Linked DNA regions of Homo sapiens: regions 2 and 3 are each linked to region 1. The links come from fine-mapping of genetic effects on gene expression. A gene starts in region 1. Each other region holds a variant in brackets. All regions are shown on one strand. Distances are from middle to middle.

Region 1 (10,375 bases):
AAATTAAGAATGTGTGTATTGTAATTCCTAAGCAATGACTAAAAATAGTTGAAAGAAATATAGGTAAAATGATAACATACAAATTACAATGGAATTCCAAAATCTCTTTTTTTCTAATTAAGCCAAAATAAGGTAAAAAAAAAAAAAAAAGAAGAAGAAGAAGAAACAAATGAGTAAAAAACAGATGGGAAGATATAAAACAAATAGTAAAATGGTAGACGTAAACCCAACCCCATCAATACTTACCTTATATGTAAGTAGAGTATCTTCTCAAATTAATACATGTTAATACCAGAGGAGGGGAAGTTTTCGACTTGTTTTATGAGTGCAGAATTACTTACTACCAAAGCCTGACAAAAGAAAATAAAAAGAAATTACAGATCAACATTACTCATAAACATAGACAAAAAAAACCTCTAACAAAATATTAGCAAATTGATCCAGCAATATATAAGAAAAGAGAATACATCTTGACCAAGCAAGATTTATCTCAAGAATCCAAAGTTAACATTAGACAATTAGCATTAGACCACTGATCAGTGTAATTTATTAAATTAACAGAATAAAGAAAAAACCATGTACAATAGACGCAGAAGTACTATTTGATAAAATTTAACACAAATTCATTTTAAAATTTCTCAGCACATTGGGAATAGAAGGTAGCATCCTTAATCTTCTGAAAGGCACATGTGAAAAACCTACAGCTAACCTCATACTTTATAATGGAAGACCAAGTGTTTTTCTTGTAAGATTGGGAACAAAGTGAGGCTCTCCATTCTCACCACATTTATTCACCATTTTACTGGGCGTCCTAGTCAGTGCAATAAAATAAGTGAAAGAAACAAAAGCATACATTTCAGAAAGGAAGAAGTAAAACTCTATTCGCAGATGGCATAATTGTTTATGTAGAAAATCTAAAGGAATCTATACAACAATGACTAGAACTAATGAGGAAATTTAGCAAGATTGCAGGATACCAGATTAATATAAAAGTTCATTTACCTTTATATATAATCAGCAAATTGTTGGAAATTTAAACATAAAAATATCAATTTTAGTAGCTTCTAAAACTAAGGTATTTAGGAATAAATTTAACATGAGGCATATAATACCTACACGGTGAAAAATGTGAAAATGTTATGAAAGAAATATCTATATAATTGGAGAGATATACTATGTTCATGGATTAAAAGCTTAATAGTGATTCAATATCAGTTCTCTCCAAATTGATATATGGAGTAAAAAAAATACCAGTAAGAATTCCACCAGGTTGTTTGGAGAATATGAGAGCTAATTGTGATATTTCTCTAGAAAGTCAAAGTAACTAAAATATTCAAACCACTCTTGAAAAAGAAGAACGTACTTGGACACTTTTTACTGCCTGACTTCAAACACATTGGGTCTTGATATGCAATGGAAGCAAGTGAGTGGAAGAAGCTAGCACCACCTAAAATCTCTTCTGGTGAGAGTGGCAGCATTCTTGAGGAGTGGGGATGATGTTCTAATTACAGTGTCTCATACCTGGCTCCAGTGGTATTGGCAGCATGTGCTGGAGATGTACGTCCAGCAGGGTTGCAGTGCCATGCATACTGGACCGCTTAGGTGGTGTGACTTTAGGCACTTAGCCTCTAAGTGGTATGCATGATCCTCCTGATGATACTATGTGTTACCTAATAATCAATGATGAATTCATTTTCTGCTTAAATTAGCCAACGTTGCTTTGTTTTTTATTAGCAACAGGGAACTCTGACTGATAGAAATGCCAGGAAGAAAAATAGAAAGGTGAAAGGACAAAGGAGGACTAGGGCTGTATTTGGATAAGGGCATAAGAATGAACTTCTTAGCCGGGCGCGGTGGATCACGCCTGTAATCCCAGCACTTTGGGAGGCCGAGGCGGGAGGATCACCTGAGGTTGAGAGTTTGAGACCAGGCTGACCAACATGGAGAAACCCTGTCTCTACTAAAAATACAAAATTAACTGGGCATGGTGGCGCATGCCTGTAGTCCCAGCTACTCAGGAAGCTGAGGCAAGAGAATCGCTTGAACCTAGGAGGTGGAGGTTGTGGTGAGCCAAGATAGCACTATTGTGCTCCAGCCTGGGCAACAAGAGTGAAACTCCATCTCAAAAAAAAAAAAAAAAAAAAAAATGAATGAATTTCTTGGCCAGGTATGGTGGCTTACGGCAGTAATCCCAGCACTTTGGGGAACCAGGGCAGATGGATTGCTTGAGTCCAGGAGATTGACACCAGCCTGGGCAACATGGTGAAACCTCATCTCTATTATTAAATAAATAAATAATAAAAAAGAATGAATTTCTCTGAGGAGGTGGCATTTAAACAAAGACCATATTACTCCATTTTAGTTTGTAAAGAAACAAATATTCCATATGTGTATGAATGTCTAAATGAGCATATCAAACTATGAATAGATAATTGTGGTAGGCTGATAATGGATTCCAAAGATACGTCCACATCCTAATCCCTGGAACCTGTAAATGTTACCTTATATGAAAAAAAGGGTCTGTGCAGATGTGACTAAATTGGAGAACTTGAGATGAAGAGGTCATCCTGGATTATCCAGGTGGGCCCTAAATTCATTCAAAATATCCTTACAAGAGACTGGCAAACGAAGATTACACACAGAAAAGAAGAGGCACAGTGATCACAGAAACAGAGACTACAGTGATGTGGCACAAAATGCCAATAGTCACTAGAAGCTTCAAGGGGCAAGAAACAGACTCTTCCCTAGAGCTTCTAGAGGGAACATGATCCTGCTGACACCTTGATTTTGGCTCAGTGAAACTGATGTTGAACTTCTGGCTTTGAGGACCTTGTTTTAAGCTATCAAATTTGTGTTGATTTGTACAGCAGCCCCAGAAAACTAACACAATAATATATTTGATTATAAAACTGATTATCTGAAGGGAGAATGAGAGGTAGAGATTACAAGAGGAGCGGAGGATAGGGATATGAATAGACTTTATGTAAATTAAAAGTAGATGGACACATAAGAACATAGATTTTTTTGAGAACATAAAGAACAAGATTTGCATTAAACATGCAAGAATTATTGCAAATGGGGAGAGGAATGAGAATGGAGATACAAGGAAATAGATGGCAACAGAAATGAAACATTCAATTGGCAAGATACAGTTGGCAAGATTCAGTTGGCAAAAATTCAGATGGCAAGATACAGTTAGGGATACTTCCTATAACATGGAGGAAAAAAAAAGAAAAAATAATAACTAGCCAGGTGTGGTGGCACAGGCCTATAGTCCCACCTACTCGGGAGGCTGAGGTGGGAGGATCAGTTGAGCTCAGGAATTTGAGGTTGCAGTGAGCCATTATATGTCATGGTAGCTTGGGAAACAGAGTGAGACCCTGTCTAAAAAAAATAAAATAAAATAAAAGAGAGAAGAAAAAGAGAAATAAGTAAAAGGACCAGTTTGGGTGACCCAACATTCACATAAAGTGCAGTCCAGAAAGAAAATAAAAGAGGAAATGTAATCATCAAAGAAATCATTCAAGAAAATTTCCCTCTACAGATTGATGTTAGATTGAAGAGAAAGCATAGAGTTAAATGAGATTGGAGAAGCTGTCAGGGGTTAGATCATAAAGATTTCATAAGGCTACTTTAGGGAAACTTTGCTAGATTGGAACTTTCTTTTCTTTTCTTTTTTTTTTTTTTTTTTTTTTTTTGAGATGGAGTTTCACTCTTGTTGCCCAGGCTGGAGCACAATGGTGCTGTCTTGGCTCACCACAACCTCTGCCTCCTAGGTTCAAGCGATTCTCCTGCCTCAGCTTCCCGAGTAGCTGGGACTACAGGCATGCGCCACCATGCCCAGCTAATTTTGTATTTTTAGTAGAGACAGGGTTTCTCCATGTTGGTCAGCCTGGTCTCAAACTCTCGACCTCAGGTGATTTGCCTGCCTCGGCCTCCCAAAGTGCTAGGATTACAGGCGTGAGCCACAGCACCTGGCTTAGAGTGGAACTTTCTGTTCAGAGTGGTTCTCTAGGTTCTCCTTTACAACTTGCCCACTGGGGAATTTTTTTTTTTTTTTTTTTGAGATGGAGTCTCGCTCGGTTGCCCAGGCTGGAGTGCAATGGCATGATCTCTGCTCACTGCAACCTCCGAGTCCCAGGTTCAAGCGATTCTCCTGCCTCAGTCTCCTGAGTAGCTGGGTGCCATCATGCCCAGCTAATTTTTGTATTTTTGTAGAGACGGGGTTTCACCGTGTTGGTCAGGCAGGTCTCGAACTTCTGACCTCGTGACCCGCCCACCTCGGCCTCCCAAAGTGCTGGGATTACAGGCGTGAGCCACCGCGCCCGGCCCTCACTGGGGAGTTTTTACATAACCTTCAAGAACCAAGGTAACATCACTTCCTCAGGAAGTCATCCAGGACCCATTTGCCAAAGTAAATGGTTCTTCCAATATGTTTGTATACAACCGATTGCATTATAGTAGATTATTAATTAGTGTGAATTTCATCTGCTAGAAGGTGTGCTACTTGAGGGCAGAGTCTGGATGGGGCTCATTCCTCTTTAAATTCATAATGCCTGGCACAAAGTGGTAACTCAGTCTTTTGTTTTGCTTTGGCTTCAAAACAAGAATTTCCCAGTCCTTAAACTTTATTTATTTATTTGAGACAGAGTTTCGCTTTTTCACCCAGGCTGGAATGAGGTGGCACAGTAATTACAAACTTACTATCAGCCATACTGTGTACTGGAACTGACCTTGTACAGTGGATCTGAGGCAGATTCTCAGTCGATAAAGCTACCCTCACACAATTCTTTTGGATCTTGGCTCACTGTAACCTCCGCCTCCCAGGTTCAAACGATTCTCCTGCCTCAGCCTCCCTAGTAGCTGGGATTACAGGTGCCTGCCACCACGCCTGGCTGATTTTTTTGTATTTTTATAGTAGAGACAGGGTTTCACCATGTTGGCCGGGCTGGTCTAGAACTCCTGACCTCAGGTGAGCTGCCCACCTCGGCCTCCCAAACTGCTGGGATTACAGGCATGAGCCACCGTGTCCAGCCAGTCCTCGAGCTTTAACACTTCCCAAATAGTAAATACGGTGAAAATAAGTGAAACCTATTTTTTATGCAAGAAAACTGTGAGTGTGAGAGTAAGGTAGCAGCCATCATGTTCATGTGCTAACTACTAACACACTTTATCGCCAATGCTCACAGCCGCCCTACGAGATAAACATTATAATCTCAGTTGTACAGGTAGAGAAACTGACCTTGTCATCCAAAGTTACACACTGCCAGCAAGTGCCCTGGCTTGAATCCCTGGCACCTGCCTCCAGAGGTCGCACTCCTAGCCACTTCGCCATGCTTCCTCGATATTCATTAGTATTCTTGCAAATATTTTTCGACTCCAGGTGCTTCACATAGGTTAATTCATTTCCGGTTCAATAGTGTCTGGCTTCAGTAATTACGAACACTACCGCATTTACCCACTGTGAAAAATAATTCACTCTTTCAAAGTTCCTGTATAACCTAATTTTCTAATTCACTTTTGTGTCTTTCAGTTGAGGTACTCCCTGCCTTTTCTGTGTCTACATAAGCTTCCTTTCTTTCGTTTCGTAGGAATAAATTGAACTTATTTTAAGATTGAGGGGGGTACAGCTGTATGGAATATAGACTCATCTTTTTTCACTCTCTGTCACAGAATGAAAAAGGACACCATGATATAGCAGCTGAGGTGGTGGATTAAGATAATGAGGCGGGGGGGGGGCGCAAAACAAAAAAAAAAGGAGCCTTGCTCCACCCCTGCCCCGCCCCCGGCCTCCTCCCGGGGACCCAGAGTCCTGGAAGGCTTTGGGGAGCTCCGGGCCGGGCGGATCGCTGCCTGCAGGGAGTCGGGGATGCCAGGTTCCAGCTGAGCAGCGGCCGCCCGCCAGAGTGCCAGTGGCTCCTTGGAGGTCGAGTCCAAGGACGTGGCTTGAAGCCGGGAGCTGGGGCGCCGGAGTCCACGCACCGGGGATGGAGGCGCTGGGTGACCTGGAGGGACCACGCGCACCAGGAGGTGACCATGAATTGCGTGGCCGGGAGCCCGGAGACCAGCGGCGGCTTCCGGCGTGTCTCTTTAGCAACGATTGAATTGCTTATAGCTTGATCTGTTTCCGAGAGATTGGAAAAGGCTGGGGCCTGATCGTGGGGTTCGGGCCAGCGTTTCTTTTCTCTCTGGACGGGGTAAAGTTCCAGGATTGGATATGTGTCACGGTTTCTAATGACTTTCTAACCTATACCTCTGCTTTTTAAGTACTGTGTGTTTAATGCATTCAAATAAGTATGCCATTAGGCAAATGTAAAACGTTACCTTTCAAGTACCCATTGTTGTTGCCTTTCTTTTTAACTTTCATTTCCCTTTCTCATCTACTACAAACATTTTACAAAGATTCGTAAGACTTCCTCATGTTGCACTGATTTTTTTTTTCCTTCTGGACTGCAATGGCAACCTCTGACAAATAGAGCAAAGCAAATGTATTTCTCTTAAGTTTTTCCTAAAAACAATTTAATTTATAAATGGCTGATGGATTTGCTTGGATATTTGGAACTCAGTAATTGATTTCGTGTTTTTAAATGACAATTTAGCCCTGGAAATAAGTGTTAAATTAACTGATGTAAAAGACCAGTAATTAGGGTAAAAAAAAAGTATTTATTTATGAATTTGTGGGACTTGTCTATCCAGAAGCATACCGCTGTAAATATTAATTCACCAGCTGAATGATTTAGCTTGTTTTCTCCTACTTACACTTCATTTGACTTCAATACTGCCTTAGAAATCTTTGTTTTTTGTTTTTGTTTTTGTTTTTGTTTGTTTGTTTTGTTTTGCTTTTTTGAGACGGAGTCTCTCTCTGTAGCCCAGGCTGGAGTGCAGTGGTGCGATCTTGGCTCACTGCAAGCTCCGCCTCCCGGGTTCACGCCATTCTCCTGCCTCAGCCTCCCGAGTAGCTGGGATACAGGGGCCCGCCACCACGCCCGGCTAATTTTTTGTATTTTTAGTAGAGACGGGGTTTCACCGTGTTAGCCAGGATGGTCTCGATCTCCTGACCTCGTGATCCGCCTGCCTCGGCCTCCCAAAGTTCTGGGATTACAGGCGTGAGCCACCGTGCCCAGCCGAAAGCAGTACGTTTTCAAAACGGCAGTAATGTACAAGGATTGTGTTCCATTTGATCAAATGTGCTATATTCAAAATAGCCCTAAGCTTAGCAAATGATATCTTCAGAGTGCAACATATGTGCACAGAAATCACATTTGTGTACTTTAATCAGTAGTCTCAATTATATGCCTAATTGCTGCATGTTTGCATTCAAGGTGATGATCCTGCAGGAAGTGCAGGAGAGACCCCCGGGTGGCTTTCGAGAGAACAGGTTTTTGTACTGATATCGGCAGCTTCGGTGAACTTAGGTTCCATGATGTGCTATTCTATACTTGGACCGTTTTTCCCCAAAGAGGTAAGACATTTTTAAATCCTTAGGACCTCTGTTTTTTTGTTTGTTTGTTTTTTAAAAGCCTTTTGAATTATTTTATTTTATAGTATATAAAATGTAAAAATCTGCATATAGGACAGATGGTGTATAGAACTCCAGCCAATAGAATACTTCTTATAGAATGCCTGATACCAGGAAAAAAAATCCAGTCAAAAAGAACATCTTCTTGGGAGGTAATTCACCTAAAAGTAGTTGATCTTCTGAGAATTACTTTTCTTACCATGTAGTCTGATTAATCTTTATTTGGTTTCTGCAACTGAAACAAAGGAGTGCACTGAATAACTGAGATTCAAATGTTACTGCAATAGGTCTGTGTTAAGACAGTAACTATTTTCTCGAGGTTTTATTCACATTTTAGAATTAGGACGTTTTGATTCCCGACCCCCCTTCCTTTTTTTTTTTTTTTTTTTTTTCCTTTCGAGACAGGGTTTCGCTCTTGTTGCCCAGGCTGGAGTGCAATGTTGTGATCTTGGCTCACTGCAACCTCTGCCTCCCGGGTTCAATTGATTCTCCTGCCTCAGCCTCCCGAGTAGCTGGGATTACAGGCGCCTACCACCACGTCCGGGTAATTTTTTTTTTTTTTTTTTTTTTGAGATGGAGTCTCGCACTCTCGCCCAGGCTGGAGTGCAGTGGCGCGATCTCGGCTCACTGCAAGCTCCGCCTCCTGAGTTCACGCCATTCTCCTGCCTCAGCCTCCCAAGTAGCTGGGACTACAGGTACCCGCCACTACGCCCAGCTAATTTTTTTTTTTGTATTGTTTTAGTAGAGACGGGGTTTCACCGTGTTAGCCAGGATGGTCTCCATCTCCTGACCTCATGATCTGCCCGCCTCCGCCTCCCGAAGTGCTGGGATTACAGGCGTGAGTCACCGTGCCCGGCCGAATTTTTGTATTTTTAGTAGAGACAGGTTTTTGCCATGTTGGGCAGTCTGGCTTCGATCTCCTGACCTCAGGTGATCTGCTTACCTTGGCCTCCCAAAGTGCTGGGATAACAGGCGTGAGCCACCACGCCCAGCCCCGGCCCCGCTCCATATTCCCTCTTTTGACTTTAATTTCTTATGGACTCTAGCGCCAATGTTTATGCAAGGGAGGAATTCTGATTAATAGGGCCTATTCCTTCTAGGCATAGCCTTTTATATGGTGTTAAGATTTATAGCTAATGACACAGATTCAAAGATAATAATCCCTAGAAAGTCCAACTGGATTCTAGACGTCAATAGGATATAGTATGAAATGAATATGACTGGCTTGGAGTGTAGACAACATATCCATGTGTTTTATTTTGTGCTTTTTGCCAAATCCTTGGCTCACAGTGCAGTGGAAGCTTGTTAGTCCTCCAACTGCCTTTTAAACATGTAGTCCTTCGTTCTGTGTGTTACAAAAGAAGATAAAGTGGCTTCTCTGCTAAAGGAACAATATTGCCATGTACCCATACAGTGCTCTCTGGCTTCTAGTACACATTACCCCTTATTTATCCATTTAATCCCCGCAACAACCTCATACAGAATCTTGAGAATCTCAGCATGTTGCAAATGAAGAAACGGTCTCAGAAGTTGTGACTTGCCCAATTCAGTTCTATTAACTAGAGGTTTAATGAGTCCCTTCTCTAGAGCAGGCTAAGCATGGGATGTGTTAGGGTAGTATAAAAAAATCAGGGAAATGGCTTTCTCTTGTCTGCCCTTTGGGAGTGAAAAAATATGGGAAAAAAAAGGTTCCAATAATTTGGATATCCCTTAAGAAAAGGATGTCCAGAATGTTATAAGACTGTTTTTTTTTTTCTTTTTTTAAATCATTTTCTTCTGGCTTCCCTCTATCCATACTAATGTTATGAGAGCCTAGAAAGAAGAATGGTTAATTCTGCCATACATGGAGTGTGGATAGCAGAAGAAAGGGCGTTACTGAAAGGAACTTTCAGGCTAAATCTAAGTTGGGGCTTTTTTTTTGAGACAGGGTTTCACTCTGTCATCGAGGCTGAAAGTACAGTGGCATGATCAGAGTTCACTGCTGCCTCAACTTCCCAGGCTCAAGAGATCCTTTCGCCTCAGCCCCCTGAGGAGCTGGGGCACAGGCATGTGCCACCACGCCTAGCTATTTTTTTCTATTTTTAGTAGAGATGGGGTTTCACCATGTTGCCCAGGCTGATGTTGAGCTCCTGAGCTCAAGCAATCCGTCCACCATGTTGGCCAGGCCTCTCAAATGCTGGGATTACAGGTGTGAGCCACCGCACCTGGCCTAAGGTGGGCCCTAAGAAGTGTTAATTCTTATGGTGAACAACAGAGATGGAGGTGTTCTAGGTATAGTCACAGGAAGAGCAGAGTGAATGGCATGTTCCTGGGGAACAACAGACAGCTTCTTGATGTGGCTTGAGCCTGGGGTGAAGTGAGGTCTAATAGGAGACAGTGGATCTGAGGAGGCAGGCCTAAGATAGAAAGGAAGGGCACTTGTCAAGGACTTAGTCAGTGGGCAGTCATCAGAGGTGTTTGAGCAAGAAAGAGCAGTCTGGCCAGACTTGGGATTTTTAAATAATAATAATAACAATAATAATGCCAGGCATGGTGGCTCACGCCTGTAATCCCAGCACTTTGGGAGGCTGAGGTGGGAGGATCACCTGAGGTCAGGAGTTTGAGACCAGCCTGGCCAACATGGTGAAACCCTGTCTGTACTAAAAATACAAAAATTAGCCAGGCATGGTGGCACGTGACTGTAGTCCCAGCTACTCAGGAGGCTGAGACAGGAGAATTGCTTGAACCCAGGAGGTGGAGGTTGCAGTGAGCCGAGATCGCCCCACTGCACTCTAGCCTGGGCAACAGAGTGAGACTCCATCTCAAAAAAAAAAAAAATTAAAAAAAAAATAATAAGAGCCTGTGGAATTGAGATGG
Region 2 (10,375 bases), 320 kb after region 1:
AAAGCTTTTTTCTTAAATAATCCACTAGATGGCAGCAGACCCACGTGGAACAGAATGGATCTTCATTGCTGTAGAAGAGCCAGAAACGGGACACTGTTTTGTTTTTGATGACCCAGTAGTGCATCTTTTTCGGATGTGTAGGAAATGGTATTATTTTTCTGTTATGAAAAATGTAACATACTCTTTGAAGTCACGTCTGTGGAAGTGAGTAGTGGTACAGATAGTTCAAAATTGTAGATAATGCAAAAATAATTTTTTCTTTGTATTCTCGTAGAGACACATGTTGATTTAATCCTACCTGTATGCATTAGATGAACTTTTCTTCAAGAAACTGTTTATTCTTAATTCTTTTTATGGTTGGAAAGACTGCGGCTTGTTTCATGAGTTTTTTTCTTTAATTGGACCTATGCCAATCAAAATAGAAGATGACTGTCCTATAAATTCATAGCACCTAAGGCTAGATAATGAAGTGAAATCCTACAGACTGGACTTGGGAGAAAGTAGGAGGATTATTTATTTTTCCAGATCACCATACTGCTTGTCATCTGACTAGAAACCTCTTATCTCCCTTTCTCTAAGCTTATTTTTCTCAAGCATTTTTGAACATGGTCAATTGGGGTGTCGCAGAAGATCCTGTGAACCACATATCCTACTATCCATACCTTCTAGAAGGGGAAGAACTTAGGAGATGGCCAAAAACCAGAGAGTAATAACATGATAGAGTGCTAACAATATTTTTGCAGCAAATATGCTATAAAAATGCTCATCCAAAACAATGAAAAAGTGTTTTGTTTCTAAATTAGTATAAGAGCAGCAGATGAAAATGAGGTACTCAAGCCAGCACCTATGATGGGTGAATAGCATATTCTGAGAATCAAAGAACTTCAACTCAGTGTACATGCATGTTCAATGGAAATTTTGTGACATTGTTAAATATTTTACTAGATAGACTTAATGCAGTGACTGCAGTAGGCCCTCCTTTTCCATGGATTCTGCATGGATTCAACTAACCATGGAACAAAAATATTCAGAAAAATTTTAAAAATAAAACACAGTACACTATAACAATTTACATAGCATTTATTATATATTAGGTATTGTAAGTTGTGTAGAGGTGATTTCCAGGAGGATGTGCATAGGTTATATGCAAATACTATGCCATTTTATATTAGAAACTTGAGCATCTGCAGATTTTGTTGTCTTTGGGAGGTGGATGGAGGGAGGCATGGAACCAATCCTCTAGGGATAGTGAAGGATGACAGTACATTCAAATAACATGCCAAGTTGAGTTTTTAAATACAAGGTTTTAGTAATTTTTAATAACTGAGGACAAAGACTGGCCAACTTTCCCTGTAAAGGGCAGATTCTTTTAGACTTTCTTTCATTTTCTTTTTTTTTTTCTTTTTTGTTAACCCTTTAAAACTGTAGCAACAGTTCTTAGCTTGGAAGTCTGTACAAAACCAGGTTTCAGGCTCTACGGGCCATAATTTGTTGACCCTGGTGTAGGAGGCTAATGCTAGTAGTATATAAAATCAAGTCTGTGGAATCTTGGCAGTTCATAAAACCCAGAGAAAGAGCAGGCGTTTCTTCCTTGATCACTTTCAGCTGGGAAGAAGGATCCTTGTGATCCACTGCCAGACCTAAACTTACTTTGAGCACTGCTGGAAACATCTAACATCTCAATTCAACTCCTTCAAATTACTTCTTCAATCTAGACACACTTATTTTTTCTTTGTTTGCTTTGTCAACTGTCACACACCTGGATTATGAAATAATGTGTTTTAACATCTTTTACTTTCAGTCCTTTTAGCACATTGAAAAAAGTTTTTTGAAAACCAAGAAATCTACATTCTAACCCTAGCTCTTGTACTAAATAGCTATAGTTTTTGGAACAAGTTATTCTGTCTGGTTCTCAACTTCTTTGTTTATAAAATAGGATTGAACTAATACCGTATAATATTTTTTCCAAATTTGATTTAGTAGTTTCAGATTTATGTTCCTATAAGCCCTTTATCACCTGATCAGATGATGCCTTTAATTGATCCTCAAGTGTAGACCTGCTCAATTTAAAGGAATGCAACCAAATTAATGTTCACGTTCAGAAGCCCTCTCGCTGTGCCTGGTACGTAGCAGATGCCCAGTAAATGTTTGTCGAGTGAATCAATGAATGAATAATAAATGGGCATAACTACCTTTCTTAACTCTCCATTTATTTATGCTGTATGTTTTAGAAATATATATTATTTCTTACGTACGTTTTGATCTTCCCAGTATTCTTTTTATGGTTCACTCATAAAACTATTCATTGAGGGTCAACAATATGATAAATTCTGGAAAAACCAAAATGAATAAAACTTAGGCCTTGCCTTCAAGAAATTTGCCTTCTAGTTAGGGTGACTAATAGGTATTCTGATCATTTCAGTGTAGGTCTGAGTATGATATTAGAGGTTTGAATCTCCAAACTGAAATGTCCTATTTCTTACCCTTCAAACCATTACAAATGCCACCTTCATTACAGCTTTTTGGATTGTCCTCCAATAGAACACACATATTATAGGTCATTGTTTGAAACATTGTTATAGCATTTGTTGCTGCTGCACCCTCTTTGAGTTTATATGGTGTTTGTACTTTTGGGGTTTTTTTGTCCTTTTCTAGTTTGTATGCTGCATAAGTGTAGGGGGCCTTGTCTTCCATTTCTGTTCATGAGAAGCTCTCATTAGTTAAATGCATTCTATTAGGCAATAACATAATGGTTGTTTTCTGAGAGGCTTCATTTTATGAGACATTGTATTATCTTAAAAAATTGTTTCAGAGTGACAAGGAGGTTGTTAGCCAGAGCCTTTGATTTTTAAGAAATTTCAGTATCTATAAAACCTAAATCTACAAAACCAAAAGCACAGAGTAAATGTAGCTTTTGATTATAACTAGATTGTTAGTGATAGTGACTAATACTTTCATTATTAATCACCTGTATGATAATGAAGGTAAGCAATGTTCAAAGAATCTTAAAACAGTTTTGTTGCTTTAGCAACCAGTTTTTTTCCCCCTCCAAAGATTGGCTCTGTGGTGCTACTTCTCAGTGGTCATATTATAACCAAAAAGATCCCAATCTAATAGTAGTTTTGGGTATTAGGTGGCCCAAAATAAATTTCACTATAATTTATCCCTTTTGTTTTCTACAGTGAACACGCCTCCTTTTTTCATACCTAAGCTTAAAAACAAAAGCTCCTGCGTGACACACTGCTGCTATCCCTCATGCAACGAGAACTCCTTTCCCATTTCCACAGAAGGGATAAAACTGAGGTCTATTCAGTTCCTGTAGCCAATGCCAAATTTAGGGGGTGATTTCCTGTGTGCTCCTCCTCTTTCAGCAAAACTGAACAGCAGTATTCCTTAGCCTGTGGAACAGTGTCTCAGAGTAACCACAAATGGTACATTCTATATATAACAGTGGAGGAAATAGGGAAGGAGACGAACAGTTAATATATCTAAATATATACATTGCAGAGCAAGAAAAAGAATACTGGCAGGTGCTAAGTTACCACTCTACAACTGATCACAGGCTGCAGTTTGTATTACTATTTTCCTGTTATAATAACCATTCCACTTTCCTCTTGCCTTCTTTCAGCACCTCTGCTGTTTGGGATAACCCAGATTTTCAGCCCTGGGTCCTTGTTGCTCCTGCTCACAGGCTATGTGGTACTCACTTTTATGAGTGAAGATGGCAGTATTATCAGGCCCCCTCCAGTTCATCTCCCTTTTACTTGTGTATGAGCGTACCCCAAATTCCGCTTAATAATTACCTCAATCAACATACTACCTTGGCCCTAAATGACCAGTTGTAGTCTTGAAAACGTGATTGTTTTCCTCCCTTGGATGTTGTCTCTAAGTCACCTTGAGAGATGGAAAAAATTGTACAAATGGATAATTAGGTGTAATCGTGAAATATTGGACTTTACTTCGACCTGTTACTTCCCAAATCCAAGTTTCTTTCTGGCTGTAGGTGAAACAGCACCATGGAGTGGTGGTTCTTTGAGACCATAAGGATCCTTCAGTTTCCCAAGATGCTTGTCTCCCAGGTGGTGCCAGGATTGAGTCTCAGTAGGCCGTAAACATTCTAGAAGTCCAGCAGCTTCTAGATAACAGAATACATGGCAGAGCAGTGAATCCCATTGTCCTTGGAACACCGTTAATTTTTTTTCTCTGTAATTTCTTGAGCAGAAGCATCGGTGTGTGGAACACCTTGATTGTGACTAATAGGTGGATTAGGAGTCTGGTAGAAGCATGGGGTCGGGGGAGTGGGGACGGGCCACAGGGGGCACAGTGGGTGCTTAGAGGATGCATAACAGAACCCAGAGTAATACCATTGAAGTGAATATAAAATTCTGCCTCCTCCAAGATGGAAGGAGCAGCTAGTTGGGTCAACCCTCAACAACGGCACATCACTAGTTTACTTTTTATTTTTAAATTAGCACGTTATTGAAAGTGTTTGTAAAGATAATTAGCCATAGAAAATAAAATGGGTAAAATCATCTCTGTAGAGCGTATGGATGTGCATCTGGGAAGTCCAAAGGATGAATGAAAAAATTAATACAAAAAATCAAACAAAAATGATTTAATAGAGTATAACATGAGATTGCTATTGCTGCAAATTGGTGTACGGCAATACCCATGGTCATGTCAGTCTGAGTAAGAGGAAATCCATATTGTTGAGTCTATATGTGGCTTTTGTTCTGACAGCCATTGCTAGTTTATTATTTCACTGAACAAGTGCTTCAGGAGTTGGGGTGAGGGATAGGCTGACTGACATACGTAGAGCAAAATGTAGAAAGGCTGTACCAACAAGATACAATTCATGGTGAACAGCTAGAGTCACTTGGTTACCTTGTACCATTGTTTATTCTATCCAGGGCTCAGTAGCAAGGCCAGAACAAGTCTCAAAAGGAAGGTTTTGCTCCAACATTCTAAGGGACCCCTGTGTTTTTCCTATTGGGATTTGCTACTAGTTTTCTTCGGTGCCCTGAAATTGCACAGGCTTGATGTACCATTGCATCAGCTGGGTCATTAAAGCCAAGTTGTAGATCTGCTTATACCACCACTTGAACTCGCTGGATGGTCTTTTCTTTTTGGGAGTTGAAGCTAAAGCTGGTAACCTTTGGGTCATTCAGTAAAGGGTGGAAGCAGCATAAAAAGTCTGTTTCTCATTTGTACTTGAGGCTACAAAGAAAAGCACTTTGCAGAAGTATGCCAGTTATCTACAGATTAATTCACCAAGATTTTTCACTGAGGAAACACTGCCCTGTATTTTCATGGATTTATTTTCTACCTGCTGGCTTACTTATGCTTTGCAGGCATCTAAGAGTACATGTTGCCTCCTGCTTTTCTGGTCCTAAAAGCAGACGTAACCAGTGTATTGGACTAATGTAGTGTCCTGTAGGAGGAGATGATCCGTATCCTTGACAACGAAATTGTAGTACAAAGATAGACAGTGTGCATAACCGTGAGATAAGCCTGTGAAGGCTCGCTGATGTCCCATCCCATTGATAGCAAATCCTTTCTCATGTTCTCTGTCCTTTAGGGTAGAGCAAAAAGTATTTGCCATATAAGCAGGTATATACAGGTTGCTAGAGATTGTGATGCTCTGTTGTAGTAAATCCATCACATTTTGAGGAACAGTGCAGTTGGAGTCACCACCTGAATAAGCTTTTGCTAGTTATCATGAGCATTAGCCTTCTGCATTCTCCAGATAGGCCGGTTAAATGGGAATGAGAGGCATGTCCACTCCCTGCTCTTTCTGTCCTTGATGGTGGCATTTCTGAGTAATTCCCAGGGAATAGATAATGCCCTTGGTTTTATTTTTTTATTAGAGTGGGTCCCCAGGGGCTTCCAATGATTTCTTCCTTCCATAAGAG[C/T]CCTTACTCAGGGAGTATGAGTGAGAACTGGGGGTTGCTCAGTATATCTGTTCAGAAACCGGAAATTACCACATGGTGGAACTAGGCTCCCATTGGGCCTGTCAGAATCCATTTCTACTCAATTCTTTAATTGGCTGAGTAATTTTATATAGCATTCATGTGGTGTACTTGTTTGTACTTTGCAAAATTGATATGCATTTCGGTCCTTTTTTTGCTATTCAGTTTATTCATGAATATTAAAGTTCCTATTCTTGGCCCATTTTTCTTTTTTTTTATTATACTTTAAGTTCTGGGATACATGTACAGAACGTGCATGTTTGTTATATAGATATACACGTGTCTTGGCCCATTTTTCTACTGGATTGTCTGACATTTTCTAAATTATTTATAGTTATTGACTATTGCTCCCTCTTTCTTATATATTATGTAGTCTTTACCTTTTGTTTTTAAGGCCTTTGATTGTAATTATATTCTCAACTGCTTTTCATAATTTTTACCAATCAGAAACATAAAAGTTTAATTATCAGTGAAGTTGAAGTTTTGTTATGTACACATTTGCCTTTTGTAAATTGCAAGATTATAACCTTTGTCCATTTTTTACTGGGCTGTTGTTCTGTTACCAAAAATAATTACCATTGTAGTTTAACCTCTTTCCTCATCATAACCTGCAGTTACTGTCTCCTGTGTGTATATGAACACACACTTACATATATACTTGTGATATATGTACACATTTTTTGTATAACATTTAACCAAGTTATTTTATGTAGTCAAATTTGTCAATATTTTCCTCTGTGGATTTTAGTTTTGTGTCATGCTTAGCTAATATTTTATATCTCTTACTCCAAGATCATGTATAAGATCATATAATAAAAACATTTATATTTCTTAGAGCAGTTTAATATTTTCAATTTTACTATTTAAATTAATGGTTTATTAAAAATGTATTTTGCTATATGCTGGGAGGTAGGGTTCTTTCTCCCCTGCCCAAATGGTTAGTCAGTTTTCCTGGTGTCATTTATTAAATAATTTATTTTTTCTCACTTGCTATGATTTTTTCCTAAAGAACAATAACACTTTAGAGTTGAGATAAATACCTGCCAATAGTCTATCGATGCCCATACTACAGTTTGTATTATCAATACGCTTAAGAAAATAAAGCCCCTATAAGGCAGTTCAAGAAAATCTGTTGAGGTTGAGAGGGAATATATAGCTAATTATAAGCAGCCATAAGTTAAACACGGCAAACAAAATTTGTTTGTCTTATGAAAGGAAAAATCAACCCCCAAAAAGCAAAAATAAATTCCTATTAAATTAGCCAAATGCTAAGAGTTGCTATATGCTTTGATTCTTCTCTAGTGTTTCTGTTTTTCAGCTTTCACTTAAAAGCAGTATTTATTACATCATTCGCGGTGACCAAAATTATCCTGCATTTTGTAATACTTTATCATTCCCTTGAGCATGTAAATAATGAATAGTTTTAAAGCATTTAAGCTATATAAGTAAACCACTCATTTAAATAAAAAGAATGAGGGGGTTAGATTGTTAAGAGTTCTTTGGATTTTCAGCTTATTTCTACTTGACGTTTTATTTATGTACCATGACATTTTATTTATGTCCCCACATACATAAAACTGTAGGTCCTCCCCTTTTGTGTAGAGCCTTTTTTAAAAAAATTGCAATAGTCATAGACTTCCGGATTGTGAGTTTAACATGACTTTTAAGCCCTGGACTTTTTATTTTAAAATCTTTTCTAAACCTCACAAAATATATATATAAGTATATAGTACAATGAACCTTTCACCTGGATTTGCCAGTTGTGGGCATTTTTCAACTTTTGTTTAATGTGTTTTTTACTTTCTGTATTCAAATTTCTCCAGTTGTCCCTATGATTTTCTTTATAGTGCTTGCTTTTTTCCTGATTCAGAATCCAGTCAAAAATCATACAGTGTCTTTTGGGTATTTTAATTCCTTAATTTAGAAAGCACCTCTGTCTTTGTCAACTTTTTTTTTCCCTTTTGTGACATTGACGTCTTTAAATGCCCAGGCAAGTTATCTCGTAGATTGTCCCACAGTCTAGACTGGTCTAATTTCTTTTTGTGATTAGATTCATGTTAAATATTTTGGCAAGAAAAATCCTCAGATCATATTGTGGCTTTCTCGCTGCAGCATGCCACAAGGTTCATAATGTCAGTTTTTTCCATTCTCACTGCTAAATTTGGTCATTTGTTTTCAGACAACAGATTTATATATGATAAAGTTATATCTTTTGTAATTAATGTCATCTGTGTGGTGGTAATTTAAGTTGTATGAATGTCCTGTGATTTTAGCATTTTTTGATGACCTTGCTGAAATCAGTTATTACATGGATAATTGAAAAATGATTTTTTGTAATTCTATTCCTCTCATTTATTAACAATAACTTATTTATATTATATTCTAATGAAATATGTAATTGTTACTTATTTCCTCACAATTTTTATGCTAGTAGTGTTAAAGTCTGTGTGCCCTTGTATTTACTTAATAATATCCTGATGGGATAAGGAAGAAGATAGTATTTTTGGGTCATAAGTGCATTTTCACAAGTTAACATTCTCACACAATTTCCTCTTGAAAATTTTTGTTACTAATTAGATTTAAGTAAACCATTTAGTTATTCTTTTTTCCAGTTAATATTTTCTATTTTCATCTTTGTTTTTCTGTCTCTTTTCAACTGCCCAATTGCTTGTACATATTAATTTTTAACTCTTTCTGTTACCTTAACTTTTGTGACAATTAATACATGAATTTTCTATTATAATAGCTGTGGAAATACAAAGAACTCTGAATCAACTTGGAACACCTCAAGATTCACCTGAATTGAGGCAACAGTTGTAAGTATCTAGTTAAATAAATAAAAGAGAAAGAAAAAACTCTATTGCTATTATTCTGTTGCTTTTACAGTATGTAGTATATTATGTTTACTGGAAGAAAAAATGGAAAAACAATGGAGTTTTTCTGCTACCTTATCCATACATTTGTACCAAGCTTTTGTGTAGATTTTTCCCTGTCTGGAGTAGGCAGGTGTTTTTATATTAAAGATCTGGAAGACTGAGGTGGGCAGATCACAAGTTCAGGAGTTCGAGACCAACCTGGCCAATATGGTGAAACCCCGTCTCTACTGAAAATAAAAAAATTAGCCAGGCGTGGTGGCGAGCTTCTGTAGTCCTAGCTACTCAGGAGCCTGAGGCAGGTGAATCTCTTGAACCCGGGTGGCGGAGGTTGCAGTGAGCCGAGATCACACCACTGCACTTCAGCCTGGGCGACTGAGCAAGACTCTGTCTTAAAAAAAAAAAAAAAATTCCTTGATAGGCTTACCCTATCAAAGCAGAATTTCTTTAGTTGCATTTCTTACAGTTTTTAGGTAGGTTGTTTTTGACAGCTGTTGAAAAATTATACTCTAGTATCTCAATTTATGTGATTTACTTTCCATAGCTAAAAATCCCCGCAGTCACCAGAGTTTTATTTGGTTTAGATCCAATACATAACCAGCTACGTGAGCTGTCTCCCCACAAGTTTATACCTACATCCTTGAATTTCAGAGAGCATTAGCTTCCGTTTAAAAAAAAGTTATAATGAATTATATAGTACATATTCCAGTAAATTAATATGCTGTTAGAAGACCAGCAGTCATAGTGATAATATTTTGTCTGTGGTATGTTGTGGATTTTACAGAGTATTTTTACATATTTTATCATTTAAACCTTACAGAATTAGAGTAAGAGAAATAGACCAAAAGAACTGTTTCCATTTTGTTCATGTCTCTTACGGGTTTAACGAGTTACCCAATGTCATTTAGAACTTAACTCTTAAATTTTATTTCAGTACTGTTACAGCTGTAAATTTCAAGTCACATATATCTAGTAAGCAATACTTCTAAACAACATTAACTATAGAGGGAAAACTGCAAAGAGGACGATATTAAAAGATAGGTAATAGGAATTCATATTTTTAGGAAGTACAATTTGAAGGACTTACAATTATCTCTAATTTATATTTTATTTTTCCACAGTGGGTAAGTGTCAGAATGGTAAAAATGCTCCAAATCTAAATAATAAACCACAATTCATTAAACTAAAGTAAAATGGAATAGAAGTACATAATTCATAAAAGTTCTAATATTTTGATAGAGTTAATAATGAAGATTCTGAATATATATCCGTAGTCACTAAGGATTTTTTTTTTTTTTTTTTTTTTTTGAGACAGGATCTCATGCTGTCACCCAGGCTGGAGTGCAGTGACATTATCACGGTTCACTGCAGCCTGGACCTCCTAGGCTCAATCGATTCTCCCACCTCAGCCTACTGTGTAGCTGGGAATACAGGCACATCCACCATGCCTGGCTAATTTTTGTATTTTTTGTAGAGATGGTGTTTTGCCATGTTGCCGGCACTGGTCTTCAATTCTGGGCTCAGACAGTCCAC
Region 3 (10,375 bases), 35 kb after region 1:
AGGGCTTGACATGGTCAAAGATGAGGTTTGGTCTGCTGGCTGGAGTCTAGTAAACTGGAGGCGATGCCAGAATCTGATTCACATTTCAGAAAGTCCATTCTGTCTGCATGTGGACAGTGAGTGGGGATAGGGACGGTAAAGGGAATGGAGGGGGAGCTTTGGAAGATTTGAGAGAGACAATAATGGTTTGGACCAGGGAGCTTGTGATGGAGAGAAAAGGCTCTATCTGGGAGTGGAACCAACAGAACTTGCTGATGTGGAGGGAGGAGAGGGGAATCTAGGAGGACTCCTAGGTTTTGGCTTGAGGGTGTGGGTGGATGGTGGTGACTCTTAGTGAATTGGGGAATAGGAGCAAAACGGATCCTGAAGTGGCAAAAGTTCAAGCCACCATGGGATGTCATTGCACACCACCAAAACCAAAAATATGGAAAAGGAGGACAATACCCAGGGTAGGAGAGGATGGCTTTGGAAGACTGCCTGGCATTGAGTGTCAAGACTGGATGTACATCTGTCTTGTGATCTCTTCATTTCCCTATCCCCTCAAACCTTTCACTCTTGAACCTCCAGAGGGCGATCCAATGTCTGAGGAGGACAAATGGCCTGCAATTCCCTTCCCGGAGCAGTGCCAGGACAGAGTGTGACCCTGGCCCCCTGCACCCATGTGGCATGCAGATCTGGGCCTTGATTGCCTTAAGTCATCCTGGCCCCCTCCAGGACTTTTTTGACCTTCATGTCCACCCACGCAAGGACAGCCGCCCTTCCTCAGCCCGGTGGTCTTGGATGCGGCTGAGTGCCTGCAGTCCCTGCCACTGTCACTTGGGGCCACTATTAAAGCATGAGTCTGCAGCTTGCACCTTCCTACCCACTATCTGGGCCAGCCTATTCTGTTACCAGCACAGTTGATTGTTGAGAATTCAAAGTCAACGCAAGGATTCGAGGCTCTCTGGGGAGAGAACTTCCTTCATCCCCATTCCCAACACACGGCTCTCAATACTTCCCTTGGATAGCAGTGTATTTAAAGATGCTATGTACAAAACCAAATTTACTCCTTTCTCATTTTGAAATTTTGCAAGTATTAAGATAAGTGGGCCGGGAGCAGTGGCTCACGCCTGTAACCCCAGTACTTTGGGAGGCTGAGGTGGATGGATCACGAGGCCAAGAGATCAAGACCATCTTGGTGAAACTCCATCTCTACTAAAAATACAAAAGTTAGCTGGGCATGGTGGTGTGCGCCTATAGTCCCAGCTACTTGGGAGGCTTAGGCAGGAGAATTGCTTGAACCCGGGAGAAGGAGGTTGCAGTGAGCCGAAATTGCGCCACTGCACTCCACCCTGGTGACAGAGCAAGACTCCGTCTCAAAAAAAAAAAAAAAAAAAAAAGTCACAGAAAAGTTTAAAAAATATGAGAAAAGACAGAGGAAAGAACACTTTGAACAAGAAAACCAAAAGGTAGGTCAAAACTATCAAAGGAAATCTCTGTGTATGTGTTTGTATTTTTATATATTTATAGTCTTCTAAATGTAACAAGGCTGAGCAGCTTAAAAGAACCTTTTTAATAATGAGAATATTCTATATAACTGAATGTGGAATATGTTAGTAATAAAAGGAATCTTTTATGTTAAGATCATATTGCAACCTATACATTATAATATGATACATAAATCAATCCAAAGGAAAACTAAAAAGGTTAAATACAAATCACAGATCATTTTTAAAAATTAAACTTTAAAAATTTTGAGATAATTGTTAATTCACATGCAGTTGTAAGAAATAATAGAAAAAGATCATGAGTATTCTTTCCCTGGTTTTCACCAATGATAACATCTTGCAGAACTATAGTACAATAGCACAACCAGGATACAGAACATTCCCATCGCCACATTCTTCACGTTGTCTTTTTGTAGCTACACCCACTTCCCTCCCATCTTCACTTCTGGCAGCCACTAATCTCTTCTCCATTTCTATCATCTGGTCATTTCAAGAAACGTATAAATGAAATCGTATTGTATGAAACTTTTTGGATTGGCTTTTTTCAGTCAGCATAATGCCCTTGAGTTCTATTGGCATTGTTGCATGTATCAATAGTTCAGTTCTTTAAATTGCTGAGTAGTATTCCATTGGGTGGCTTTAAGACACAATGGAATACTACTTTATTTGTTACAAATAAAGCAGCTATGAACTTTCAGAAACAGGTTTTTTGTTTGTTTGTTTGTTTGTTTTTGCCAGGGGCGAGGGTAGAGGGTGGGATATGAAGCATAAGACTTCACTTCTCTGGAATAAATGCCCAGCAATACAACTGCTGAGTTGCGTGATAATTGCATGATTAGTTTGTTTTCAACTAACTCATTTATTTTAGATAAGAAACTTGATTTTGACAATAAATATTAAATATCACGCATTAATGAAATATCTGGTCAGCCATGGTGGCTCATGCCTATAATCCCAGCACTTTGGGAGGCCGAGGTGGGCGGATCACCTGAAGTCAGGAGTTCAGGACCAGCCTGGCAAACATGGTGAAACTCCATCTCTACAAAAAAATACAAAAATTAGCCGGGCATGGTAATGCCAGCTACTCAGGAGGCTGAGGCAGGAGAATCGCTTGAACCTGGGAGACGGAGGTTCCAGTGAGTTGAGATCACGCCACTACACTCCAGCCTGGGTGACAGAGCAAGACTCTGTCTCAAAATAAATAAATAAATAAATAAATAAATAAATAAGAAATATCCTATTTACTTATTTGTTTAATGATCAAGATTTAAATACGTCACAGATACCCTCTCTAACCTAGCTGGAAAAGATGTGGATAATAAATTCTTATATAGCCAATCAACTTTCATTAAGTGCAATTAATAATTGAGAAGTATCTCTACACATTCATATCAGAAGGAAATTACCCACAGGGTAGTCCCATGATACTCACCATTTCTTTGGTGTCACTGTCACATGACCCCGTTTTATGAAACAAACCCACAGGAGGGGAGGCTCAGACACAACATATTTACATGGAGAAGCTAAAATGTTATTTAAAGTATTAACAAAGGAAACTAAATTCTGCATAGCCAATCTTCATTAAGAGCAGCTTGCAACTCCTAAATATTTGCAGTAGTTTCTTTCAGAAAACCTACAGCTGGACTTCTAATCCCAGCTTACTTATAGTTGAGTATTACAAGGGACCACCTAGGAAAGCATGATGTCATAACAAATTTTGACTTGTAGCTCAGTGCAATTTTATCATCAGTACTAAAACAATTCAGAGTGTATTTCATGTTGATGATAGGTCAACAATAGCATGCCAGACACAAAAAGCAGTATATTATATCATTTGTTTTTGTCAGTCAAGACAAAAATTGAATACCGAATCAATCAAGTAACATTATTGTATATTTCAAAAATGACAGCCATGAAATCAGTTATTGCATAAATACAGGTAGGTTTTTTTTTCTTTTAAGAGAATTAAAGCCAGTGTAGATAAATCTTTCATCTGAGAATAGTACTAATACCTTTTCTTCTCCCTATATTTTCAGAACTTTTGGCTATGATTATTTCTTCTATTGTTTTCTGTTCTATCACCATGTTTATTGGTCGGCTTTTGTCTCTTTCGTTTTAGTTATCTGATAAAAATGCGAATGGCTTGGTGGTTCGTGTCTTGGTTGTTAGTAAGCTGGGTCCAGCCTGTAGTTCTGGAACACGATTTAGTGAGGGAGACAGGGATGTGAATTAGGAAGTAGGCAATCATCTCATGCAGTAAGACAGCTATGGCATTGGATCGTATGCTTGCTACTGCATCTTCTGGAAAAACAGTATTATTGCAGTAAAGCAACATTATTAATTGGAAAGAACTGCATGGGAAAGGAGGATCTGCCCACAGATTCTTCATTCATATAGCTGTGAGAATTAAGAATTTGTCTTAATAATAAATTTATTAAATTTATCTTTAACATCTTAAATTATCTTAATTTATCTTAAGATCTGCCCACAGCTTCTTCATTCATATAGCTGTAGGAATTTATCATAACACAGCACTGAAAACTTTGGTGAGATGATTCAGAAGAGTGAGAATTTCCAATTGATATTGTGCATGAATTGATCTTTCCATATAAACAAACTCCATTCAGTAGAACTATGGCATACGACTCACATTTTAAGGTGTTTAAAAAATGCAGACAAATGCCAGACTTCCATTTTTCTGTTTTTGCATGTAGTCACTGTGGTTAATGTTTTAGCCTACAAGAAACTGAAGAAACAGCTCATAAAGAATTTCTTCCCCTACTGGAGCCTCTAAATTCCTGTCCTGTCAGCCTTCCCCAGAGGAAGGATAAGCAGGGTAAAGGAGGTGCTATGATCCTGCCCTGCCTCCATGCCTGGCTGCCACCCAGAGAGGGAAAGGAGTAGAGCCATGATTCACTTTTCAGAGAGCTGCCAAGCTGTTTTCTAGAGTGGCTGTACCATCCTACATTCCCAACAGCAATGTGTGAGTAATCCAGTTACACAGCAGGTTGTTTAGCATGTTTTTTAAAAAATAGAATGGTGCATGAAATAGGTGGAGTGAAAGCTTTTTATCAGAAAGAGAATCTGTGGTACAAATGGAGGGAATGCCATCAAGATTAGCAAGTAGAAACAGAATTTAAGTTCATAATTTTAGGAGAAACCATTCAGATCAGGTTGACCTGGAAGAAAGGAAACTTGAAAGACTTTGTGGAGACAGACAGAACAATGCAAACATAAAGAAGTAGACACATTGACATTCTTTTAACAAGACAGTAACCAAGGACAGGTGGTTATGTCACCAAACCCTGGGTAAAAGCTGCCTTGGGCATGGCTCTTGTAATAGGGCCTCCATCTTGTAGGAATGAAGCAATAGTAATAATAGCAAAAATTATTCAGCACGTATCACCATTGTGCAGATAGAGGAAACTGAGGCACAGAGAGGGCACAAAACTTGCTCATAGTCACATAGCTAGGAAGTGGCTCAATCCCAGGCATTCTGGCCCCAGAGTCCATGTCCATGTTAATTATTATTAGATACCACCATGACCCTTATAACTTACAGTGAGAAAAAAGCTCTCCATAACTAGATGCAGGACCATACACAATTTAGTTCTCTCTAATTTGAAGGACAGTCTGGAGTGGGATCTGTCTTACAGTAAAAGAATAATGTGCTAAAGAGAAAGACTATGACATGAATATGAGAGTCGACTTAGGCTTTGTAGGCTAGAGAATCTCCTGATTCTATTGCTGTGGTTCCTCTGCTGAGCTTGGTTCAGTAGAAATTGTGTCAATGCTCCTCGCCTGTGTCATCTGGCCCATACAACTCCTTGAAAGAAAAGCTCAGGAATCAGAATTGCCAGGCTAGAATAAAATAGACACTCTTTCTCCTGGTGTCTGACTGAAGATGCAGCATCCTTGAACCAGCAGCTGCTGGGACTCCTGTCTGTCATCTCAAAGGGTACGGCCCACCCAGAAAGTGAAATCAAAACAGGAAGTCACCAGGGGTGACTGGAGGAGCACAGGCCTTGGAAAGGAAAGCAGCTGAGATCCAGAGGAGTGGAAGGCTCCCCCTTGACTAAAGCTGTAAGTAGTTACCTTGGGCTGCAAACATTATTTTTTCTTTGCTTCCTTGCTCACTGAAAATAAACAAGTGGCATTATTGGTGGATTGCTGTGACATTCTCATATTGATCAATAAGACATAAACTTTTCTATTTTTAATCTATCTTTTTTTTTTTTAAGTCTGCGATTTCCATGATATTTTCTTACCATACCCTTTCAAACGCATGTCTCTCCAACTGCCTACATAAATCAACGAGTGACTTGGATCCAGTTCCTGTGGATTTATTTCTGTGGTGACAGTCATCCCGACTTTACCAAAAGCTTTTAATTCAGTCAAGAGAATTTTTAATTTTTTAAAAGGACCGGCTGGTGAATGCAAGAAACTTTTGGCAGGGTTAATAGACTGGCATAGTGGGTGGACCTATGAGATTAATATTGTTAATATTTTATTTTAAGGAAGCAGGAGCTGTCGGAAAGTAGGGGAGGATGCTACTAACTCAAAGGGACTTCTGCAACTTCAACCCTAAGTTTCTGAGACAGGAAAACAGACATGTTGGTTGAACCATGTGAAATTACTTTTGCTAGGTCAAAAACAGTGATGATTGGCAATTTCATGTTGCACAAGCATTTCCATCTAGCAGTGCTTTCAGAGAATCCAAGGCTGTGATATATCATTACCTTCTCAGATTTGCTCTGGTTTCAGCTGTGTTCATTAGCTATCTGAAGCATTGAACACCCATCCAACTCTAAAG[C/G]TGGAAGATTACCTCATCTGAATGAGACCTGGCCCCAAAAGATGGTTAAAGTTCAAGCTGGTTCTTTTCAAGGCAACCTTGCCTTTTACAGGGCCTGACTCAGTCTCACTAAAGCCATATGTAATACTCCAATGGTGTAGAGACAGAAACGTTTTTCTTTGCCATTAAGTACTTTTTTTGGATACAGTATTGTACTTTTTTGGTATACAGTATTAAGAGGAACAGTTTTAACACTGGAGCCTGGCTTTTCTGCCTATTGTTGCTTCTTATTCTTATTTTGACGTGTCACCCTTGCTGCCTGTGAGAATGTCATTGATAATAATACATGATATTTCCCATTCTTTGTTTCTCAGTTCACTTGTCATTTTGCATTCAGGAGAAGGGACAGAACAGGAAGTCCAGTAGCCAGTGTCAGAGCCTGGAGCAGCTCCTCTCCTTCCTGGGGTTGAGTTCCTTGGTTTTCTTGTTTCACCTTTGCTACCCCACTGCAGTTTTTCTACCACGCTGGGTTTAGCACGAATCAGGAGTTGATGCCCAGGTACCCTGTCAACCCCATTTCATTCCAGCAGTTCTTCAGCACGGTCATCCAAATAGACTAGAATTTGAATTGAACAACAGTAGTTCTGTGGGCCTAACAATGAAATAATATTAAGCAGTCAGGATATTATATTACTAAATAGTCACTCACTTTTGTTAATTATTGTCATCTGCGTTGTAGTCTTACAGAGGACTTTCACATATCTTTAGGAGATAGAGCAGGTATGATTACCTAAACTTTTAGATGAGAAATAGAGGTCCAAAGAAGTGGTGCAAAGCAGAAACTACACCCCTATGCTTACTCTTGAGAAAGTGGGAAAAAAATGAGGTTTTTAAAATTAAAGACCTAAAACCTAGTCCAATTGAACATTATTCTAACAGATGATCAGATTCACAATTAGAAACAAATATTTGAGCTATTACTGTTTTTCGTTTATTTGCTTGTTTTTTATTTTTGAGACAGAGTCTCACTCTGTCACGCAGGCTGGAGTGCAATGGTGCTATCTCGGCTCACTGCAACCTCCTCCTCCTGGGTTCAAGCAATTCTCCCGCCTCAGCCTCCTGAGTAGCTGGGATTACAGGCGTCTGCCACCATGCCCAGCTAGTTTTTGTATTTTTAGTAGAGACTGGCTTTCACTATGTCGGCCAGGCTGGGCTCGAACTCCTGACCTCAAATAATTCGCCCGCCTCGGCCTCCCAAAGTGCAGGGATTACAACCATGAGTCACTGCGCCCACCCCAATACTGTTTTTTTTTTTTTTATGGTGACTCTTTGACCAAATAATTTTTAATTGATTTTAACTTTTTACCCCTTTAGCTAAGTTCATTAATCCCAAAATGGCAAATTAGGAAGTAGGCTCTTTTAGCAACGAATTACAATTAATCAATGTTCCCTGTGGCAAAATAACCTTACTTTATTTTATAATTCAGTTAAACTAAAAATTTTAATCTTTACCTGATCAATCATCTTTATGAAAAGTCAACTATTGAAACTGTATGTCCTGAATTTGGTTTTTTACTTCTGAAGATTTAAAACAATATCAATGACCTCTACAGCAAATATTTTCTTCACATCTCAGGGATTTTCCTATATTTAAATTGCTCCTTCATTTACTAACTTCTAATTCTTTTTTGCAATTACCTTTGTTACTCAAATTCTCAGTTTCAATGAGACAATTTTTAGATGCTTCAAATAAAAAAACAAAGGAGGGAATTTAGTCATCTTGATTTTATATCAGAAGTGATTTTCCCTTTCCCTGTTAGCCAAACAAAAAATCCAAAACTCTGATCAACATCATTTCTATCTTTTACAGCCAAGGACAGAGAAAAACATCCAGATTTGGGAACACAATAACAGATATGATTGTCCCCACTTCTACTGCCAAAATTATAAAACTGTTAACTCCTCCTCATCAGCTTACCTGACTACTTAAAAGCAAAAGAGTTAATTAAGTATTACTAATTGGTGATACTAGATCAATGAAGGTAGGTCATGGCCCAAATTGTACTTATGGAGATGGAAGAGCTTAATTGTTTTTATTAGGCATCAACTGCATCAGAAATTTCATTAGCACTTAGCAAATTTGCCTATGGTCTTCTTAAGGTGATCATTTTGAATTGGGTTCTTTAAAAGACATGAATGACTGGCTGCAGTGACTGACACCTATAATCTCAGCACTTTCAGAAGCCAAGGTGGGTGGATTGCTTGAGCTCGGGAGTTTGAAACAAGCCTGGGCAACATGGTGAAACTTCCTCTCTACAAAAAATAACAAAAATTAGCCTGACATGTTGGTGCGTACCTGGTGTTCCAGCTACTAGCGAGGCTGAGGTGGAAGGATCACTTGAGCCTGGGAGGTGGAGGCTGAAGTGAGCCATGATCATACCACTGCACTCCAGCCTGAGCAATAGAGCAAGACTCTGTCTCAAAACAAAAAAACAAAAAACAAAAAAACCCCAAAAGACACGAGTGTTCAGACACTCAGTTGCAGACATTAAAAGAGAGCACAGACACATGTGCTGTTTTAGGTATAAAGGAAAGACTCTGGAATCAGGAATGAGAAGCGAACATCCTGCTCTGTCGCTCTAGCTCTCTATGCCTCAGATTCCTATCCTGTAATAAGTGGGCATTTGGGTTACATGATTTCTAAACTCTAACAGCACTCATAATCTATTATATACCAATCACCTATGCTAATTTACTAATTATACACTAGATAGTATGGTTATATACTAACAGTCTATTATACAATCTGCTAAAAATTCATAAAAATATCTATCCCTTTACATTTTCCACAAAAGGGCTTGACCATTTTTCCTGAATTATTTTTAGTTTTCTGCTCTATAGAGATAAGAAAAGTTATTCCTTTAATAGAAACTTCTATTCAAAGCAGAAAATATGAGCAGATCTTATTTATAGCCCCTAGGCCCCATTCTTAACAAAACATTTATCTCAGTAAGAAGGAAAGCACAGAATAAACTTTGTTTAATCGTACCTACTCTTCTATGCTGTCTAAAAGCATTTCCGTGACTTTTACCAAAGGGCTGGATAAAAATAAAACAAATCCTTTATTTGGCAGGATTGGGCCTGGGGAAGGGAGAATATGAATGTCCTAAGAAGGCATCTGAGATCACATCCTGTATTTGTTGTTATTATTGTTTTTTTTTTTTTTTTTTTTTTTGAGACGGAGTTTCGCTCTGTCGCCCAGCCTGGAGCGCAATGGTGTGATCTCAGCTCACTGCAGCCTCTGCCTCCTGGGTTCCAGCGATTCTCCTGCCTCAGCCTCCCGAGTAGCTGGGATTACAGGCGCCCACCACCACGACCAGCTACTTTTTGTGTTTTTGGTAGAGATGGGGGGTTCCACTATGTTGGCCAGGCTGGTCTTGAACTCCTGACCTCAGGTGATCTGCCTGCCTCGGCCTCCCAAAGTGCTAGGATTACAGGCATGAGCCACTGCACCTGGCCTGTTAGCATTGTTTTTAAACTCATTGTTGTTATTTGCTGCTAACAAAAATGTAAGTTACATCTTCTCCTTATTACAACACAGATGATCTTTATCACCAATCCTGGACTCTTCCCCTTCCCTGGCATCTTCCTCCAAAGCAGGGGGTGGGGAGGGAGGAAAAAGAAGGAGGAGAAGGAGTAGGAGGAGAAGGAGAAGTAGGGGGAGGATGGGGAGGGAAGGGTGAAAGAGAGAAAGAAGGAAAGAAGCGGAGTATCCTGAGGCCTGGGGCCCCTGAGCTGAGATTCCTCCTCTGGCCTAGGTGCCTCGGGGTATTGTTGCTGTAGGCACTAACTATACAGCAGTGAACAAACCAGACACAAAATCCTGCTTTTCTGGAGCACATGTTTTCAGTCCTTAATAGCAATAAGTAAGTCAGAGTGTAGATTTGGGTAAATTTTGTTATCAATATTGTCCTGTGTTACATTTTCTTAGTAGTAAGTATTTAATATTTTCCCCCCCGTCTAAAAATAAACACAATGTAAGTGACTCAACAGAACCAAAAAAATTGTTGTCAATTTTTAAATTTAATAAATGAGA

Evidence for each region. PIP is the estimated chance that this variant, and not a neighbour inherited with it, causes the effect.
Region 2: its variant is fine-mapped to the expression of SLC18B1 in T cells (TOPMed, PIP 0.98).
Region 3: its variant is fine-mapped to the expression of SLC18B1 in fibroblasts (GTEx, PIP above 0.99).

What each region holds. Positions count from the first base shown.
Region 1 is chr6:132,794,069-132,804,443 of GRCh38, reverse strand. SLC18B1 (solute carrier family 18 member B1) reads left to right here and starts at 5,807. Exons shown (of 14, transcript NM_052831.3): 1 at 5,807-6,030; 2 at 7,323-7,462. The coding sequence starts at 5,988. LOC107986644 (a long non-coding RNA gene) reads left to right here. Exons shown (of 3, transcript XR_001744345.3): 3 at 1-86. RefSeq lists a silencer at 5,740-5,789 and an enhancer at 7,021-7,521.
Region 2 is chr6:132,474,003-132,484,377 of GRCh38, reverse strand. It overlaps STX7 (syntaxin 7), which reads left to right. Exons shown (of 10, transcript NM_003569.3): 3 at 8,716-8,785. Among named protein-coding and RNA genes, the nearest start is that of STX7, 34 kb to the left of the region's middle. The variant C/T (reference allele first, on the strand shown) is at 5,913.
Region 3 is chr6:132,758,578-132,768,952 of GRCh38, reverse strand. It overlaps a transcript of VNN2 not described here and the pseudogene RBM11P1. Among named protein-coding and RNA genes, the nearest start is that of VNN2, 5.9 kb to the right of the region's middle. RefSeq lists enhancers at 588-747, 5,484-5,583, 8,513-8,702. The variant C/G (reference allele first, on the strand shown) is at 6,301.